Linked DNA regions of Homo sapiens: region 1 is linked to region 2. A link means that fine-mapping ties the variant in region 2 to the expression of a gene that starts in the linked region. Tissue or cell type: monocytes after R848. Region 2 holds a variant in brackets; the other region holds the start of a gene. All regions are shown on one strand. Distances are between the middles of the regions.

Region 1 (4,884 bases), 900 kb before region 2:
CCACAAAGTTAAGGCTACCAGAGATATGCTGGGGTGGTATATCTGATACCAGTAAACTGTCAGTCACAAAACGGTTTTGCATTTTAAAACTAAAGCCCAGAGAATGGATTCAAGTCTGAAATGTCCTACTGGAGGCTGTTTCCTTATTGTTTCAATGAGCTTGTTCAGTTTTGTCTCAAAATACATTAATTTCTTCCTGGCTCTTTTTTTTTTTTGTTTTTTGAGATGGAGTCTTGCTCTGTTGCCCAGGCTGGAGTGCAGTGGCGCGATCTCGGCTCAATGCAAGCTCCACCTCCCAGGTTCACGCCATTCTCCTGCCTCAGCCTCCCAAGTAGCTGGGACTACAGGCACCCGCCACCACACTCGGCTAATTTTTTGTATTTTTAGTAGAGACGGGGTTTCACCGTGTTAGCCAGGATAGTCTCGATCTCCTGACCGTGTGATCTGCCTGCCTTGGCCTCCCAAAGTGCTGGGATTACAGGTGTGAGTCACCATGCCTGGCCTTCCTAGCTCTTTTTTGACAACAATAGACGTGAATCAGATTTGCATATCATTTTTTAGAGACTAAGTCTAGGAATGCTTGTCTAAATATCACTGTTGCCTCTGTGAAGTTAAGGGCTTTTACCTTTTAGTAATGCCTTAAGGTATGCAATTCTATGTATCTACTTTCCTCTATATCATATTATACTCCTTTTCCTTCTGGTCTAATAATTCTTAATTCTTGCAACAAATACAAGTAATTCTAAAGTTATATTTAACCTTTTAACCTTATTTCTTCTAGGGTGTCACCTAGTAGCCATATTAATGTGTAAGAAACTGAATGTAATAGGGAGATGAAAATCTATTCAATTATGAAATCTGATTGAATGTCAGATAAATTTTTCTTTAGTGCTCTTTCAAAATTTTTAAATGTAGTCAACCATACTTTATAAAAGGCAGTACTAAAAATGTATATAGTCAGCTTTCCACATCTGTGGTTTCCACTTCCATGTATTCAACCAACCACAGATTGAAAAATTATTTTTTTAAAGCATGATTACATCTGTATCATTAAAGATGTTTTTTCTTGTCACTATTCCCTAAACAATATAATATAACAACTATAGCATTTACATTGTATTAGGTATTATAAGTAACTTAGAGATGATTTAAGATATGCAAATGCTACACCATTTAATATAAGGAACTGGAGCATCCATGGATTTCATATCCATGGGGTGGGCAGGTGAGAGGGTCCTGGAACCAATGCCCCACGGATACCAAGGGACAACTGTATTTTGCCTTATAGGGTCATAATTTTCCAGAAATGTTGTATATCAGCCAAAGCCTTTGTGGTCCAAGCACTGTGACTGACACAACTCAACCTTTCTGGGCTCTGGTTTCCTAATCTATAAAATAAAGCATTTGAATCCTAGCAGATCTGAAAACCTATCTAATTTTAGGATTCTGTGAATCTAAGTACAGAAAAATCTACATTTCCCAAATGACAGATCAACAGTATGATAATACTGTGGGCTTAGGACATAGCATAATACTTCATATACCAGCAACTTTAATTACAATGCTTATCTAAAAAATATTTTTGGGGAAAAATCAACCTTAAGCTCCGCTGTTGATTTATTTTTCCTTAGTTATTACAAAATATCATAAAATGCTTCCATTTATATTTCTTAGACGGCTTCACAACATGATTCAAAAGTAAGAACTAGAGAAAAAGAATAAATTTCATATAAGAACTAAATCACCAATTCACAGAAGGCCCACGACTGTGGGAACTGCAGAGAGACGACACTGGGAATGCATTATTTACAATGAATAATTTAACAAATTCTTTCATAAGAGTAAACACGAAACAATCTACGGATTGAGCTTTAAAACTACAGAATTATGATCTGGAACCATACAAGTTCTGTTACTGTAGAAATTAACAATGTGTTTAAAAACTTCAGTTACAACAGTTTTCAATTTTAAAAACAATATAATGTTAGGTAACCGTTTCTGCAACGAAAAATTTAAAACATAGGCTACACTCAAAGTGCTACCGGTTTCTTTTAATTCTCCTCCTGAAGAATTAACCCGGGTCCTTAAATTCCCGGGTACTGAATCACTCAGTGCCACCTCCCCACCACCAAAAACCATTTAGGTACGCCGTTTCACACAAGGTAAGTTCGTCAGAAGTGTGTGCCGGAGTGACTGTCCATATGGTTCCAACACTGTCCCTTCCTTTTTCTCTTGAAAAGAGAGCACACACACACACACACACACACACACACTACACTTAGGCTGACTTACCTGTTTTCAGAATGTGCACTCGTGGCAGACAATTACCTCGGACGGTCTCTCCGCCGGAGATGGGGGTTTCGGGCCCAAGTACCAGCCTCTAGGGGCCAGATTCCCTCCGGTCTCAATTCACTGCCACTGAATTCATCAGAAAGCGACCTACTTCCCACACCTCACTTCCCACTCCAAAGCCAGGGACTTGGGAGTCAGGTGGCGCAGATTGATGACGTAAAAGCCCCCCCTCCCTTCCCCGCAGAGCCTCAGCCAAAGCGACTGCGGTCGCCACCCCGCCCCCTTCTGGGCGCCATAGAGAGCGTGGCGGTATCCCGGAGCCTGCCGTCCGGCCCTACCGGGACCGATGCCCTCTAGTGGCTCAGTGTCCAGAAGCCGCCAACGAGGACGATCCATGGCATCCCGGGGCTTTGACGGTAAGGTCACCAGCTCTTCAGGGAGGGCCAAGGGGTGACGAGTACGTATGTGGCGCCACCGTGCGGACAGCGGTTACGGGGCCGAGATAGGAGAGCCAGGGGAGCGGGGAGAAAAACGGAAGCTGAGAGGGCGGTGCAGCATTGGGCTCCCGGAAAAGAATGAGAAAAACACTACATTTCCCAGAGCCCTACAAGGCCTGAAGTGGGTGGAGCTGGAAGCCGGAAAATTGGGTGCGCAAGAGGATCAGGGATAGCCTCTGAGCTCGGGTTCCCAGGGTTCGTAGCTTCCAACGGCTGCGCGCGCACTTCGGTCGCGGGCGGTGAGGTGCTGTTGCTGAAACGCTGCCGCTGAGGGTGGACTCGATTTCCCAGGGTCCCGCCGCGGGAGTCTCCGGCGGGCGGGCGCGCGCGAGCCACCGAGCGAGGTGATAGAGGCGGCGGCCCAGGCGTCTGGGTCCTGCTGGTCTTCGCCTTTCTTCTCCGCTTCTACCCCGTCGGCCGCTGCCACTGGGGTCCCTGGCCCCACCGACATGGCGGCGGTGTTGCAGCAAGTCCTGGAGCGCACGGAGCTGAACAAGCTGCCCAAGTCTGTCCAGAACAAACTTGAAAAGTTCCTTGCTGATCAGCAATCCGAGATCGATGGCCTGAAGGGGCGGCATGAGAAATTTAAGGTGGAGAGCGGTAAGTGAGATGCTCTTTCCGTCCTTGGTTTTGGGCTCGACTCCCGCCCTTTGGGTCTGGTCTTCCCCCATCAAGTTGGCACTGGGTACCGCTCTGTTAACCTCACTTCCTGGGCTCTGTGGATATCCTGAGCCTTCGCTTTCCTGCTCCTTACAGTTTGATAAGAAGCCTTTGAAAAAAAAATCTGAATCTAAGTTCAGTAGCATTTTCTTTGTAGTTAGGGTAGGCTCATACAGGGACGCTTATTTTCCTTCGTCCGGCAGACGGGAAACAGACTTGATAGAGTCTGCGAACCCATCTCTCTAAGCCTAGAGTACCTTATATGTTTTGTTGCACTTCAACTGATAGTGGCTCCGCCCTATTTTCTAGGCACCTGCATTCTAGGCCTTTGCCAAATTGACCACTCTGTGCACTTGTTCTTAGTGTGTGCGTCGTCCCGTGGCTCCAGAACGAATCAGATGTTTACAAAAATGAATATTAGGTGCATAAGAGCGCTGGAAACACAGTGAATGTGCAGTACATAAATTTAATATATCTTGATTTCTCTTAAAAAGTTGGAGTTTGATAGAAAACATTAAAATTTTCTTGTAATTACCTAAAGTAGGCCTTTAAGTAAGAAAGTTACTGACAATAATGGCTTGAACATCCTTGAAAAAAATATGAAGAATATAGTCATTACCATTAGTAAAATACAAACTTCCCGTTAATGTGTTTTGGTTTACCATTTGTTTGGGGAGGTTCATACTGTTCTTGCTAAGTTGACTGGAAATTCTGAACAAGTTTTTACTTCAAAAAAAGTGTAACTGTCAAGCAGAATTGACCTTGAAAATTAGTTCTCTGATCCCAGAGCTGAGTATAGTACATTGCATTCTATTTATTAATTTGCACCATAAATATTGAATGTCTTACATGTTCCTGATACTATGCTGAACATGATATTCAATCCCTTCCCTTGGAAAGTTTACACATTTACTTTTACATATATTTAGTAGTTTTATGCTTTCAGGTAATATCTTGACTACTATAAAAGAAGTCTTTTAAAACAAAGGAGTTTTTTTTTGTCTAAACAATTTTTTCTCGTGTAATAAATACTTTATTTATTAAGCAGTTTACTGATGTCTGGAGAAAATACTAAGATAAATGAGGTTACCTGCCTTGAAGACATTGATTTGTAAAGCCCCTTTTAGGCCTTATTTTTATTTTTTATTTTTTGTCATGTAAGTCGTTTGGAAATGCTTTAAGTCCTTTTCAGTGCTCAGTCTATTTATCTTTACTCAGATTCTCTTATGTGGAGCACAATTCTAATACTGTATCTTAAGTTTTAAAATCAAGGTTATTAGAAATAAATAACAGTATTCACAATGTATGTACATGTGTTTGATTTTGTTTTTTGTTTTTTGCTTGTCTGCTGTAGAACAACAGTATTTTGAAATAGAAAAGAGGTTGTCCCACAGTCAGGAGAGACTTGTGAATGAAACCCGAGAGTGTCAAAGCT
Region 2 (4,884 bases):
CTGGCCCTTTTATTACTTTTCTATTGCTGTATAACCAATTACCACAAGCCTAGTGACTCAAAACAACACACAGTCATATCTCACCATTCTGTAGTTCTGAAGTCCAAGAAGACTTGACTGGATTTTCTGCTCAGAATCTCACAAGGCTGAAGTCAATGTGTCAGCCAGCTGGGCTCTTATGGGGAGGTTCTGAGAAGAATCGACTTCTAAGCTCATTCGCATTGTTAGCTGAATTTACTTCCTTGAGGCTGTAGAACTGAGTCTCCATTTCCTTGCTGGCTGTCAGCCGGGGTGTCTATCAGCTCCGAAGGTGTCTATTCCTTCTCACTTGGTGCCCTCTCCTCAAAGCCAGCAATGGCACATCAAGTCCTTCTCACACTTGGAAACTCCCGGACTTCCTCCTCTACCAGCCCCTGAAGAAAGCACTCTGCTTTTAAAGGGGCTCGTATGATTAGATTGGGCCCACCCAGAGAATCTCCTATTTTAACTCAATTGTGCCTGCATAACAAGGGGGAGTGATGTTTCATCATATTCCCAGGTTCTGGGGATTAGGGGAGAACATCTTTGAGGGGCATTTAAGGAATCTTGCATACTACAGTGGCAGACATTGTTCCAAGTGTTTCACATTTAATAATCCATCAATCCTCATAACAACCCTGTGCGGTAGGCTCTATTATCTTCCCCATTTTATAGATGAAGCACAGAGAGACCTTACTTGCCAAGGTCTCCCAGGCAGGGCCTGGATTTCGACTCAGGCAGGCTGGCTTCAGAGCCTTACCTCTTATCCACCATTGTACATTGCTATTCAATTAACTGTTTCTGGAATTATTGAATACATGAATAATTGAATTTGGTATGGGACTTGGAGACAGTGCTAAGGATGAGTAAATTCCTTAATTTGTATGGAAAATTTTGTGCATAAATTTTCTGCTAATTGTGAAGGGAGTCTGCAGAATCTCAAAGGCATAGGTCTTAGAGAAGTGCCTATACCTGAGAAATTCCTCCAATAAAATGCCTTCCCTTTTCAGACTTCAGCTGTTAGTGAGCAACAACACTAAACACAGAATTGCAAACATCTGAGACCAATGTGGAACTGTTGCAACTGCTTTTGACACTAGATAGTCTCTGCCCTCTGTCACTTTCCTCCTTGGCCATGGCCCAGGACAAATATTGACAGTCATGAGAACAAAGCCAATATGCTAATTTGGATTCTAGGAAAACAAGAAGAAAAATTAAAAGGGTCAAAAATTGAGCCAAAACAAATGCAAGAAAGGAGAATCACCAAAAACTGAAGTCATTTCGCAAGCCTGAAATTTATTTTACGTGCTGCTGTCTCTTTCTGTGAGTCCTGTTGTCTATTGCAGGGGTGTCCAATCTTTTGGCTTCCCTGGGCCACAGTAGAAGAAGAATTGTCTTGGGCCAAACACAAAATACACTAATGATAGCTGATGAACTAAAAAATAAAAATTGCAACAAAAATCTCAAAACGTTTTAGGAAAGTTTACGAATTTGTGTTGGGCCTCATTGAAAGCTGTCCTGGGCTGCCTGAGGCCCGTGGGCCACAGGCTGGACAAGCTTGTCCTATTGCTTATCTGGGGTATAGAAGAAACAACACTGGATTGAAACTCAGAAGACTTGAGTTCCAGGCCTGGCTCTGTTTCTTATGTGATCTTAAACAAGTCACTTAATTTTCTGGATCTTATTCATCCCATTTGTAAAATACAAATAATGCCTACCTCACAGAATTTTGGAAATAATTAAATATGATAGTGAATAGGTTGTGTTCCCTTTACAAATTGTAAAGTACAATACAAATGTTACATGACATTATTGCACCAGGTGACCAAGGGACTGATGGAAGGAAGGGATAGTGCATGCAGAGCCACCTGACAAAGAGGATACTTCTCCCAGTGTGATGATCTAAAATGAACATGGGCTTAGGAAGAAAGAGAGTAACATCAAGAAGCTATAGACTACCCGCTAGTCTTCTGAACATGCATTTTGCAAAATAAAATACACTTAAAGAGTAAAAAATAGTATTGATATCTTTATGGGAAAAAATGGAGGCAAAGAAAAATCATTTGCACAAGTTGCAGAGCTGAAAGTCCATTTTGGATATGCTGACTCTCAATACAGTGCTTGAAGCCAAACTTAAATGTATCCATTCTATGTCTAAAATGTCAGAGGAAAAAAATGGTCTGCTGGTTAAGAGAAGAAATTATGTTGTCTGAATAAATACCAAGACTCAGTTGCATCAAATTAGATGGAATACCAAAATGTTCATCCTCTTAAACCTCTACAGCTAAATGGTCAGCTGTGAGTATCAAGTCATGTGATACTGATTTTCCTTAAAACAGTCATATAATCTACATCTGAGAGGACAAAACAGTTCTCATGTGCAATATCTCTCATGACACTTTGATTCTGGCCTTGTGAGACCCTGAGCAGACAGCCTAGTCAAGTCAGCTCAGACTTCTGAACTCCAGGACTATGAGGGAATCAATGGGTGTGGTTTTAAGCCAATAAATTTGTAGTAATTTGTTACACAGCAGTTTGTCTCAACACTCCTTTTTTTTCCACATAGTAATCAAAATGCTTAAAGAAAGTCACCTTGAGAGCACATTAACGTAAAAGTAATGACTACAATTCATCAGCTTCTGGCAAACTCACCATTGCTAACCAGCAAGTTCTAAAAACCCAATGGGGGAGTGTACATGGCTTAAAGACAGGCAATCCAGAGTTCTCCAGTAACATCCCAACACCAATGACATTAACATGAATATAATAATTGTTGGGCAGTTAAGCTAATCAGCCTTGCAAAAACAATTCAAGCCTACAGACTGTCTTTATTGTCTGACAGAAATACTTAAAACACATTTCCAAAACAATCTGCAACAGCAAACAAAGCAGCTCAACAAGGTGGTTGCTTTGAGTTGACTTAGAAAGGGTCCTGATAGTCATGCTTCATGGAGAACTTCCTGAGAAATGGTACCACCCCCCAACACAGACACAGACACACA[GACACACACACACAC/C]ACACACACACACACACACACACACACTCCTCCTATCCAAGGTGACCACCTCAAGGGCAGAGACTGTGCCTTAACATCTTGTAATATTATCATACCAAGTGTTATGGATATTAATAAAGTTTAATGACACTTACTACCTTCATGTTTATGGCCCTTCGAATAATAAAGTCAAAAATTTCTATAAACATCCTTAATCTATGTAGCGACTTCCACCTAAGTTTAACATTGTAGACACTTTAATACTTGTGGATGTCAGTTAAAGTAGTTTTAAAGAAGAGATAAATCAGAGAGGTTAAAAGAGTGGGGAAAGGACTACCAAAAGAAAAAGTTACTGATTTGAACTAATTGAGGGCATGGAGTTTTCATGGAAAACAGAAAGGCTTTGGGGTTAACTTCGAGGGATACAAGATGATATGGTGAAAAGAGTATGCCCTAGAGATGCAAACTCTAGGGGTGATACTCTAGGTGCATACTCTAGGTTGTCCTCACAACTCATGAGCATCTTAACCAGAGGCAAGTCCTTACCTCCCTGAGATTCAGTTTCCTCCCCTATAAAGTAACAATAATAATAAATGAGTGTGGTTGTGAGAATTCCCTAAGAGAACATAAATGGAGGGCATCACACAATGCCAAGCACACAGTTGGCGTTCAGCATATTTAAGCCATTTCTTTCTGCTCATCATGATATACAAAGATTCCATCTCCCTCTTTCTGTGCCCCATCCTCTTCAGCATTGACAAAAAATGTGACCCACCAAGTGAGCAGAGTAATATAACGATATCACTCACCAGAAAAAAAAAATAGATACTTCTCTGTACATACAAATGCCAGGAAAACGGTAAGTAAATGATGGTTTAAAACCTGGCTTTATCTCATGTACTAGTTGGGAAACTTTTGGCAAGTTATTTAACCTCTTTGTACCTCAGTTTCTTCTTCTGTAGAATGGAGATAAGAACTATGTTTATCTCATAGAGTTTGTATGAGAACTAAATGAGCCAATAGATGTAAAATACATCCTTACGACAGTGCTTAGTACAAGGTCAACACTGGTAGTCAACATTAGCTATTATTGTTAACTATTATTGTTACTCACAATAGCCTTGTATGTGCAGTACCTAAAAGAGAATGAAGAAAGAAGGCTGGTTTCTGCCATGAGGCAAAACTGCAGAAAAGGTGTGGCAGCAACAGCAGATTATGCTGCAGGAGGGAGGAGCCAGCAAACAATGGAAAAATGAGCTATGGAAAGAATGGTAATAAACACCTGTATAATGTTCATTATGTGGCAGGCACTGCTAAGTATTTTATATATATTAACTTATTCAATTCTCCTAACAATCTCTTAAGGTTTTGACTCATTTAATCCTTGAAACAAGCCTAAGAGGCAGACACAGTAATTATTCTATTTTTCAGATGAGAAAACAGAAGAACAGAGAGGTTAAATAACCTGACTGGAGTCACACAGGAAGTGGTAGAATCAGGATTTAATCACAGACAATCTGGCTCCAGTGTCTGGGCTCTGAACCACATCATTAATGTAGACTATTGGCTGCAAGGTAGACTCACTGACACACTCACCCCCTATTCCGTCAGAGATAGAAACAGGTCTGGGTTTTTTTCAGTGTGAGAAATGAGAGTTCAAGCCATTTTTTAAAGAATGGTCAAATAAAGCCAGATGACTTGAGAGCATCCAAACTAGAGACATTGTGGGGAGAGAAAAACAGGTTGAGATGGGTAGGTTGACAAGAGGATTTCCTGGAGGAATCAAATAAGTAAAATTATTAATTGTTGCAAAAATTAGTATAAAACTTATATACTATAAAATTGTATTTAATTATTTTTTAAAGTGATGG

Alleles and levels. Positions count from the first base shown, and alleles are read on the strand shown. Sizes are in standard deviations (SD) of each study's normalised expression.
In carriers of allele C in region 2, the expression in monocytes after R848 of the gene that starts at base 2,429 in region 1 tends to be higher than with GACACACACACACAC alone (large effect, 1.6 SD a copy in Quach 2016).

The links. PIP is the estimated chance that this variant, and not a neighbour inherited with it, causes the effect.
Region 1: it holds the start of ODR4, and the variant in region 2 is fine-mapped to the expression of ODR4 in monocytes after R848 (Quach 2016, PIP 0.95).

The regions. Positions count from the first base shown.
Region 1 is chr1:186,373,383-186,378,266 of GRCh38, reverse strand. ODR4 (odr-4 GPCR localization factor homolog) reads right to left here and starts at 2,429. Exons shown (of 14, transcript NM_017847.6): 1 at 2,293-2,429. It overlaps TPR (translocated promoter region, nuclear basket protein), which reads left to right and starts at 3,014. Exons shown (of 51, transcript NM_003292.3): 1 at 3,014-3,389; 2 at 4,804-4,884. The coding sequence starts at 3,239. RefSeq lists enhancers at 2,400-2,589, 2,760-2,809, 2,970-3,269 and a silencer at 3,830-3,879.
Region 2 is chr1:185,474,279-185,479,162 of GRCh38, reverse strand. It overlaps LOC107985239 (a long non-coding RNA gene), which reads right to left and starts at 1,150. Exons shown (of 3, transcript XR_001738340.2): 1 at 85-1,150. The variant GACACACACACACAC/C (reference allele first, on the strand shown) is at 3,021.